3 linked regions of the Homo sapiens genome follow. The protein of the gene in region 1 interacts with the protein of each later gene in a biochemical or structural test. Each region holds a gene or a part of one and is shown in the gene's direction. Other genes may lie near its edges.

What was found.
Region 2: the proteins of LOXL2 (region 1) and DAPK1 form a complex in vitro, tested with the Homo sapiens proteins (one large-scale study listed by BioGRID and IntAct).
Region 3: the proteins of LOXL2 (region 1) and FN1 interact in a biophysical measurement, tested with the Homo sapiens proteins (one study listed by IntAct).

What each region holds. Positions count from the first base shown.
Region 1 is NC_000008.11:23,394,038-23,397,695, reverse strand, and holds part of LOXL2 (lysyl oxidase homolog 2 precursor), read left to right. Parts: intron 1-3,658. UniProt on the Homo sapiens protein: Mediates the post-translational oxidative deamination of lysine residues on target proteins leading to the formation of deaminated lysine (allysine).
Region 2 is NC_000009.12:87,706,460-87,709,251, forward strand, and holds the end of DAPK1 (death-associated protein kinase 1), read left to right. Parts: coding exon 1-905; 3' UTR 906-2,175; downstream 2,176-2,792. UniProt on the Homo sapiens protein: Calcium/calmodulin-dependent serine/threonine kinase involved in multiple cellular signaling pathways that trigger cell survival, apoptosis, and autophagy.
Region 3 is NC_000002.12:215,429,411-215,433,068, reverse strand, and holds part of FN1 (fibronectin isoform 1 precursor), read left to right. Parts: intron 1-1,104; coding exon 1,105-1,236; intron 1,237-2,216; coding exon 2,217-2,354; intron 2,355-3,658. UniProt on the Homo sapiens protein: Fibronectins bind cell surfaces and various compounds including collagen, fibrin, heparin, DNA, and actin. Fibronectins are involved in cell adhesion, cell motility, opsonization, wound healing, and maintenance of cell shape.

The sequences.
Region 1 (3,658 bases):
CGCCATTCTCCTGCCTCAGCCTCCTGAGTAGCTGGGACCACAGGCGCCCGCCACCATACCCAGCTAATGTTTTCTATTTTTAGTAGATACAGGGTTTCACCGTGTTAGCCAGGATGGTCTCGATCTCCTGACCTCGTGATCCACCCGCCTGGGCCTCCCAAAGTGCTGGGATTACAGGCGTGAGCCACTGTGCCTGGCCGGAAAAGCATATTTCTAAAGATGATTTCACCCACCCCAAGAATAGCATATCTAGGTAAAATCACATGATCCTAAGTATATACCCACATAGGCTTTTTGGGTTGCTTTTGTGTTTATTGTGGTAAAATATACGTAACATAAAACTCACCATCTTAACTATTTTCAAGTGTACAGTGCAGTGGCGTTAAGTGTGTTGACACTGCTGTGCTACCATCACCATCAGCCATCTCTGGTACTTTTGCATCTTCCAAAACAGAAACTCTGTACCCATTGAACACTAACTCCACTCTCCCCCTCCGACCAATCCCTGGCAGCCCCCATTCTACTTTCTGTCTCTGTGACTATGACTGAACTAGGTACTTCATATAAGTGGAATATATTATATTTGTCTTTTCGTGTCTGGCTCATTTTACTTAGCATGGCTTCCAGGTTTTTTCACGTTGTAACCTGTGTCAGAATTTCCTTCCTTGTTGAGCCTGAATAATATCCCACTGTATGGATAGACCACATTTGTTTATCTCCTCCTCCACTGGTGGACATGTGAGTTGTTTCCACCTTTTGGTGACTGGGAATAATGCTGCTGTGAACATTGGTGTACAAATGCCTGTTATGGATGAACTTTTACAAAGTGAACATGCCCTTGCTACTACATCAAGAATAGAACATTAGCAAGAATGCATGAATTTAAAGGCAAAGCAGGAGATTTCAAATACGTTTCATGCCCAAACATGGCTGCTTCAATTACACCTCAAGATCTTGGGACTGGATATTGATTTTCTCTACCATGAGGGGGTTTGGAAGAGATATTTGAAAGAACACAGTTAATAATCTGTGATTTGAAAGAGTCAGTTTATAATCACAGATTAGTTATGAGATTTAAGTAGCTCCTTTCCTTAAAACGTCTAGGGATGGGAGTACAACCTGTTGAGATTTGCAATTGTAGCTGTGTTAGGGTATCACCACTAGGATCATTCCAGGCTGCCCCTTGGCCATTGTAGGGTTCAAATCCACCTGGAGAACTCCTGCCTTTCTGGCAGCTTCTGCTGGAGCACAAGTCTAAGCCCATTCTTTGGCCGTATCCTGCCTGCCCTCCTCATTTCCTTCCTCCCTCCTTCCCTTCCCACCTGATCTCTCTCTCGTTTTTTTGTTTGTTTGTTTGTTTGTTTGTTTGTTTGTTTTTGAGACTGAGTTTTGCTCTTGTTGTCCAGGCTGTAATGCAATGGCACGATTTGGCTGACCGCAACCTCCACCTCCTGGGTTCAAGCGATTCTCTTGCCTCAGCCTCCCGAGTAGCTGGGATTACAGGCATGTGCCACCACACCCTGCTAATTTTGTATTTTTAGTAGAGACAGGGTTTCTCCATGTTGGTCAGGCTGCTCCCGAACTCCCGACCTCAGGATCCTGCCGCAGCCTCCCAAAGTGCTGGAATTACAGGTGTAAGCCACCGTGCCCAGACTTCTCTCTCTTCTTAAGTAGAACGATTTATCAGTGACTCTAAGAGTTTATGTGTGTATTTAGAAATAAGGCCAGGCACAGTGGCTCACACCTGTAATTCTAGTACTCTGGGAGGCCAAGGTTGGGGGATTGCCTGAGCTCGGGAGTTCGAGACCAGCCTGGGCAACAGGGTAAAACCCCATCTCTACTAAAATTACAAAAATTAGCCAGTCATGGTGGTGCACGCCTGTAATCCCAGCTACTCAGGAGGCTGAGGCGGAGGTTACGGTGAGCCAGGATTGTGCCACTGTGCTCCAGCCTGGGCGACAGAGTAAGACTCTGCCTCCAAAAATAATAAAATAATAATAATAAAGTCTTCAGTCAAGAGTAATATTTTGATGCCTGGCAACCACCCCCAGGCTGCCTGCATGACACTTTCAAGTGTCATCGAAGTAGATTCTTTTTTAAAAGACTTTATTGAGATATAATTTGCATATCATCCAATTCACCCATTAAAATGTACAAGTCAATGGATTTCAGTATATTCACAGATATGTGCAAATATCACCCCAGTCAACTTTAAAATGTTTTCATCAACACAAAGAGAAGTCCATATCCGTTAGCCACCACCGCCTATCCTCCCAGCCTTAAACAGCCACTAATCTAGTTTCTGTCTCTATATTGCCAATTTTGTATAATTTGTGTAAATAGAATCATATAATATGTGGTTTTTTTTTTTTTTTTTTGGTCTGGCTTTTTTCACTTCCCTTAATGGTTTTTTTGTTGTTGTTTCTTTGTTTTGTTTTGTTTTGAGACGGAATCTTGCTCTGTCACCAGGCTGGAGTGCAGTGGCGCCATCTCGGCTCACTGCAACCTCCGTCTCCCAGGTTCAAGCGATTCTCCTGCCTCATCCTCCCAAGTAGCTGGAACTACAGGCGTGCGCCACAATACCCAGCTAATTTTTGTATTTTTAGTAGAGACGGGGTTTCACCATGTTGGCCAGGATGGTCTCGATCTCTTGACCTCGTGATCCGCCCACCTTGGCCTCCCAAAGTGCTGGGATTACAGGCGGGAGCCACGGTGCTCCCCTAATGTTTTTAAGCCTCACCATGTGTCAGTATCTCGTTACTTTTTATGGCCGAATAATATTCTATTGTATGGGCATACCGTATTTTGTTAATCCATTTATAGTTGACAGACATTTGGGTTGTTTCCACCCTTTGAGTATTATGAATAATACTGCTATGAACATTCATGTAAAAGTTTTGTTTGAACACCTGTTTCAATGTGTTTCAATTTTGGGGGGGTATATACTTAGGAGGGGGGTTGCTGGGTCATATAGTAATTCTATGTTTAGCTTTTTGAGGAATCACCAAATTGTTTTTCACAGTGGCTGTAGTATTTTACATTTCCACTAGCAACGTATGAGGATTCTAATTTCTCCACATCTTTGGGGACACTTTTTATTTTCCCCTTAAGAAAATTCCAGCCACCTTTATGGGTATGAAGTGGTATCTCATGGTACTTTGTGTTTGCTTGATGACGAGTGATGTATCACACCTTTTTATGTGCTTGTAAGCCATTTGTATATCTTCTTTGGGGAAGTGTCTATTTAAGTTTTTGCCCATTTTTAATTGGGTTGGTTGTCTTTTTTTTTTTTTTTTTTTCTCTGAGACAGAGTCTCACTCTGTCACCTAGGCTATAGTGCAGTGGCACGATCTCGGCTCATTGCAACCTCCACCTCCCGAGTTCAAGCGATTCTCCTGCCTCAGCCTCCCGAGTAGCTGGGACTACAGGCACGCGCTACCGTATCTGACTAATTTTTGTATCTTTAGTAGAGACAAGGTTTCACCATGTTGGCCAGGCTGGTCTTGAACTCCTGACCTCAGGTGATCCGCCCACCTCGGCCTCCCAAAGTGCTAGGATTACAGGCATGAGCCACCGTGCCTAGCCTGGGTTTCTTGTCTTTTTATTGTTAAATTATAAACAATTTTTACATATTCTGAATTCTAGACCATTGCAGATA
Region 2 (2,792 bases), on another chromosome or scaffold:
GCATCGTGCCCGTGGAACACCTCACCCCCTTCCCATGTGGCATCTTTCACAAGGTCCAGGTGAACCTGTGCCGGTGGATCCACCAGCAAAGCACAGAGGGCGACGCGGACATCCGCCTGTGGGTGAATGGCTGCAAGCTGGCCAACCGTGGGGCCGAGCTGCTGGTGCTGCTGGTCAACCACGGCCAGGGCATTGAGGTCCAGGTCCGCGGCCTGGAGACGGAGAAGATCAAGTGCTGCCTGCTGCTGGACTCGGTGTGCAGCACCATTGAGAACGTCATGGCCACCACGCTGCCAGGGCTCCTGACCGTGAAGCATTACCTGAGCCCCCAGCAGCTGCGGGAGCACCATGAGCCCGTCATGATCTACCAGCCACGGGACTTCTTCCGGGCACAGACTCTGAAGGAAACCTCACTGACCAACACCATGGGGGGGTACAAGGAAAGCTTCAGCAGCATCATGTGCTTCGGGTGTCACGACGTCTACTCACAGGCCAGCCTCGGCATGGACATCCATGCATCAGACCTGAACCTCCTCACTCGGAGGAAACTGAGTCGCCTGCTGGACCCGCCCGACCCCCTGGGGAAGGACTGGTGCCTTCTCGCCATGAACTTAGGCCTCCCTGACCTCGTGGCAAAGTACAACACCAGTAACGGGGCTCCCAAGGATTTCCTCCCCAGCCCCCTCCACGCCCTGCTGCGGGAATGGACCACCTACCCTGAGAGCACAGTGGGCACCCTCATGTCCAAACTGAGGGAGCTGGGTCGCCGGGATGCCGCAGACTTTTTGCTGAAGGCATCCTCTGTGTTCAAAATCAACCTGGATGGCAATGGCCAGGAGGCCTATGCCTCGAGCTGCAACAGCGGCACCTCTTACAATTCCATTAGCTCTGTTGTATCCCGGTGAGGGCAGCCTCTGGCTTGGGCAGGGTCTGTTTGGACTGCAGAAGCAAGGGGGTGATGTAGCCCATCCTTCCCTTTGGAGATGCTGAGGGTGTTTCTTCCTGCACCCACAGCCAGGGGGATGCCACTCCTCCCTCCGGCTTGACCTGTTTCTCTGCCGCTACCTCCCTCCCCGTCTCATTCCGTTGTCTGTGGATGGTCATTGCAGTTTAAGAGCAGAACAGATCTTTTACTTTGGCCGCTTGAAAAGCTAGTGTACCTCCTCTCAGTGTTTTGGACTCCATCTCTCATCCTCCAGTACCTTGCTTCTTACTGATAATTTTGCTGGAATTCCTAACTTTTCAATGACATTTTTTTTAACTACTATATTGATTGTCCTTTAAAAAAGAAAAGTGCATATTTATCCAAAATGTGTATTTCTTATACGCTTTTCTTTGTTATACCATTTCCTCAGCTTATCTCTTTTATATTTGTAGGAGAAACTCCCATGTATGGAATCCCACTGTATGATTTATAAACAGACAATATGTGAGTGCCTTTTGCAGAAGAGGGTGTGTTTGAAATCATCGGAGTCAGCCAGGAGCTGTCACCAAGGAAACGCTACCTCTCTGTCCCTTGCTGTATGCTGATCATCGCCAGAGGTGCTTCACCCTGAGTTTTGTTTTGTATTGTTTTCTGACAGTTTTTCTGTTTTGTTTGGCAAGGAAAGGGGAGAAGGGAATCCTCCTCCAGGGTGATTTTATGATCAGTGTTGTTGCTCTAGGAAGACATTTTTCCGTTTGCTTTTGTTCCAATGTCAATGTGAACGTCCACATGAAACCTACACACTGTCATGCTTCATCATTCCCTCTCATCTCAGGTAGAAGGTTGACACAGTTGTAGGGTTACAGAGACCTATGTAAGAATTCAGAAGACCCCTGACTCATCATTTGTGGCAGTCCCTTATAATTGGTGCATAGCAGATGGTTTCCACATTTAGATCCTGGTTTCATAACTTCCTGTACTTGAAGTCTAAAAGCAGAAAATAAAGGAAGCAAGTTTTCTTCCATGATTTTAAATTGTGATCGAGTTTTAAATTGATAGGAGGGAACATGTCCTAATTCTTCTGTCCTGAGAAGCATGTAATGTTAATGTTATATCATATGTATATATATATATGCACTATGTATATACATATATATTAATACTGGTATTTTTACTTAATCTATAAAATGTCGTTAAAAAGTTGTTTGTTTTTTTCTTTTTTTATAAATAAACTGTTGCTCGTTGCATTAGTTTTTTTGATCTTTAATTCAAAAGGATTTCTTTTTACTTGTTGTGGTTTTACTGTTGTCACCCCACATAGCAGGACAACCCAGTCCAAAACCTAGAAAATCATTACACCTCAACTCTCAGGGTTATTGAGATGCCGATTATTACTCAAATTAGGAATGGTGTGGGAAAGTGAAAAGAGTTCAGATAATTTTCACATTTCTTCCCATTGTAAATAAAACAGGCCCCTTAGATTTTTCTCGGGTGAACCAAAAAACCAAACTGACTCTTTTAGTTTTGGCAACAGGGAACAGAGGAAGCTTTGCGACTTCTACACAAAAATGATGGGGATGGCACCAGGAGGAAGAGAAAACCTACAGCAAAAAGACCTTCGTGCCTTTCTTACATTTATAGTTCATTTATGTTTCAAGCAAGTTGTCCACAATAAACATGATTAACTTTCATAATGAGAAAAGAAGTCCTGATGAATAAAATTAAAACTAGACATAGGTGTGTCTACAAAGGATGAGACTGAAAGGGAAACTGTGGTCGCCTTAAGGAGCGGAAACTCCTTTTCTTGTCTCAGCTCCTTCCTGAGTGTTGGCTTCACTCTCTCCTGCTTCAAAAGACTGCTTCCTAT
Region 3 (3,658 bases), on another chromosome or scaffold:
CATAGTAGAACCAAGAGACCTCTTGGGTTCCATTTCAGTAAGACATGCTTAGGGGAGTTGCCCATTTTAAATCACCTGGATATCTTCAAGCTAGACAAATCATGAGACTTTTCTGCAGTGACTGGGAAGGTGTTCATGAAGAGTGAACCAGCCATGTGTTGTCTGGTCTTCATGTTTGCAATGCAGAGACCTCTTGCACCTCACAGAAACAGTCTGGTTTCTTGGTGACCAGTAGGTTATACCCAGGAAGCAGATGTCACTATTCCTAGGGATAATACAAAATTATTAACCCAATAGAGTTTGCTAAGGAACTTTGGGAACCGGGCTGATTCTCAACTCTAGTTTAGCTAAGGCACTCTTTCCAGTATGATTCACTGGGTTACCAATAGATTCTATTAAGATAGTATTTAAGTTTTTTAATCCATTCTTTAAATATAAGTCGTCTTAAAGACTTCTATTCAAAAGAACAAGTCCCGTGTGAATAGGCCCAATCAACTTTCCCCATATTTCATGTTAGGGTTTATCCAAGTTCACAGGCAAATCGCAAGAGGCAAGGGTCCATAGTGTTTACAATCTAGTTCAGCATTTGAATGTGCCATTGGGCTTAACAACTTAGAAAACTACCAGGATTTCCACACTTTATATGCATATGTCTGTTTGCTTTCCACCAAAATGACATTTCTATCCTAGGGTAAAATACAGGCTCTCCATGCTCCCAAAAGCTGGAGTGCTGTGCCTGATGTGGCCTTTTCACTGAATTAGTCTCAGTCTTAGCCTGCTGTGTATGAGTGAAGACCAAGCCTCCCAGCCTTTCTTTTCTGCTTAGGACCCAATTTCCTGTGATCTCTCTGGGAAAGCAGGATTCATGACCTCTTCCTTGCCATCCAGATTTCTCTGTGGTTTTCCATTGTGTTCTAAGCAAGACACTTAACTGAATTGACTCCAAGTGACCAGACCTGTTAACGTTTCCCCTGTCTCTGATGGGAAAGCTGTTGTCTGTGTCTCTACTTTAGCCAACCTAAGTACCTACCATGGGTGGAATATGAGACCAAAAAAAAAAATCTGTTCTGCCCTCTCCTAACATTTTCGTTGTATCTTCAACAGACCGCTGCCATGAAGGGGGTCAGTCCTACAAGATTGGTGACACCTGGAGGAGACCACATGAGACTGGTGGTTACATGTTAGAGTGTGTGTGTCTTGGTAATGGAAAAGGAGAATGGACCTGCAAGCCCATAGGTGTGTGAGTCTTAGGGCTGAGCAAGAGCTGGGATGCTTAGTTCTAATGTGGGGTTGGACCAGAATCACATCTACATAGGTCATAGACCTGAATTCCAGTGAAAACCAATAAAGAAATGGGAATTTTGTTTGAAATAATGAATTATTATATAATCCATAGTCTTCTTACAGGAGTTAGATCAAAAAGTACTGACTACACATAGAAGTCTTAACTTTGCTTCAAAAGCATAAGGTAGAATTGAAAGATTTAGAATGGAGTCATTTCTTTTACCTAATAGCTGATCTCAGATTCCTCCTTCGTCAAGATATAATTTATTTAAAAGAAAAAAAAATGACACTTTGGACACATTTCTATATGGAATGTCCTGGACCGAAACATGAAATAGTGTGTGCTTGTCACACTCTGCTCATTTCTTTTCAAATTAAAAGTTGTTGAGCTTCTTTGGATCTCAATCCTCAGTTGAATTTTGTAAGTACAAGCCTGAAAGTTTCTGGCTATAAATTTTACTCTGTTTACTTGTCTTCTAATTTAGAGGTTTTTGTCTTGTTTTGTATTGTTTTGCTTTCCAATATTTAAAAATAGCTTTCTTTGTCATTGTATTTAGGCCACTCAAAATTCATAATTGGTCATTTATAATTAAGATTGGAATTTTGCATATGTAGTCTCCCACAGACTAGATACATACATAGATCCTTGCTACTGGAAATGCTGCTGGGAAGTTTGGGGCTCGCTGAAAATATGTAGTCCATGTACTTATTAGGAGAATGGAATTTCTGCCTGCCAACTCAGCTTGAGCTTTCTTTTGCCTTGGCTACTTACTGTGTGCTTAGATGCTGGGTGTGTCATTCTTTCTGAACAGAGTGCCACTTAAAAAAAATGTGGCTGAATTTTTGCTTACACACTACACTTTAAATTACAGGGAGCTTGCACAATTCAAAATAACCTTTTTTTCCTGTTTTTCTTCCAAATTTCCCTACAGCTGAGAAGTGTTTTGATCATGCTGCTGGGACTTCCTATGTGGTCGGAGAAACGTGGGAGAAGCCCTACCAAGGCTGGATGATGGTAGATTGTACTTGCCTGGGAGAAGGCAGCGGACGCATCACTTGCACTTCTAGAAGTATGTTTTACATCTTTATGTTAAAGATTAAGCCAGGTATTGTTTTCTGGATTCCTAGAGAGAAGGGTAATACTATGTTACTCAGAACACATCCAGTATATCAGCATGCTTTGGTAACTTCTGGAAGTCAAGAAAACTTTCATAACCAACTTATTCCGCATCTTCAGAGAAGACTACATAAATAGAAAAACATATCACTTTGATAAGGTTCAATCTCAGCTCACTGCCACTGACATAGAGTTGAACAAAAGGTTTAGGTTTCCTTCTATGTTTGAAATTTAAATAGGGCACATTCACAGGCTAAATTGATAAAATTAAAAAGAATTTATCCCATAAATTAAAATGATTTATCTACTCTGGAGTTAGGGATAGTGTCTCTGACCTAACGCATTTGATTAGTGCTGTAAAGAAGCTGGCCTCTGGTGTCTTTACTGCTCCTTCTAAGATTGTCTTGGGGTCTTAATTGTTGCCTTTGGGTTTGAAGGCTCCTTTTTTGATATTGTAAACTAATAACAGCTAGAGAGTTTGTTGAAGTAAAACAGCCATTAACTACTGGTGTTGTAAATAAGTTTAAAATCAAATCCAAATAATTTGAACCTGTTTTATTTATCTAGCTGAACCCATTTAACTACCTTTAACATAGCCATCATCCAAATTCAAATTCTTTGCTAACAAAAATAGGTCTCTCATGAAAAGTGGTAACCATTTTGACCAAAGCTTTCCCAGAAACTTGCTGGTTTATTAGATATTTTGCATTTAAAATGTTACTGTGATCATCAGACTTCCAAGATCTTTGTGGCAATATTTTAGCTTAAGACAAATTAGATGTCTGATTCAAACCTTATCTGTTATTTAGAACTCTTTAAATAGCAAGTTGGGAAAAGTTTCTCAAAGAGAAGTCATTTATTCCAGAAAATTTTATAAGGACTTACTTTGTTCAAGGTATTATAGGGGTGCAGATATGAAATGAACATTAGCCCAGCCTTCAAAGAGTACTTAGGGGGTCAGGGAGATGAGAAAGTCTTATACATATTTATCATCTGCAAAACACAGTATTAAAGATTTCAACAGAAATACTGAAAGTAGTGCTATGGAGGTTCAGGGGATGATAATACTTTTCGCTGGGGATTTGGGAAAAAGCTCTAATCAGTAATTATACCTTCATGCAAACTTCTATTCTTGTGGTAGATGGATGTGGGTGTGTATTTGTTTGAACCTACATCAACTATTAATTTTTTTTCTCTAACCCAGGAGTTGCAACAATATCCAATTCACAAAGACATCAGATCCTCTATACTCACATC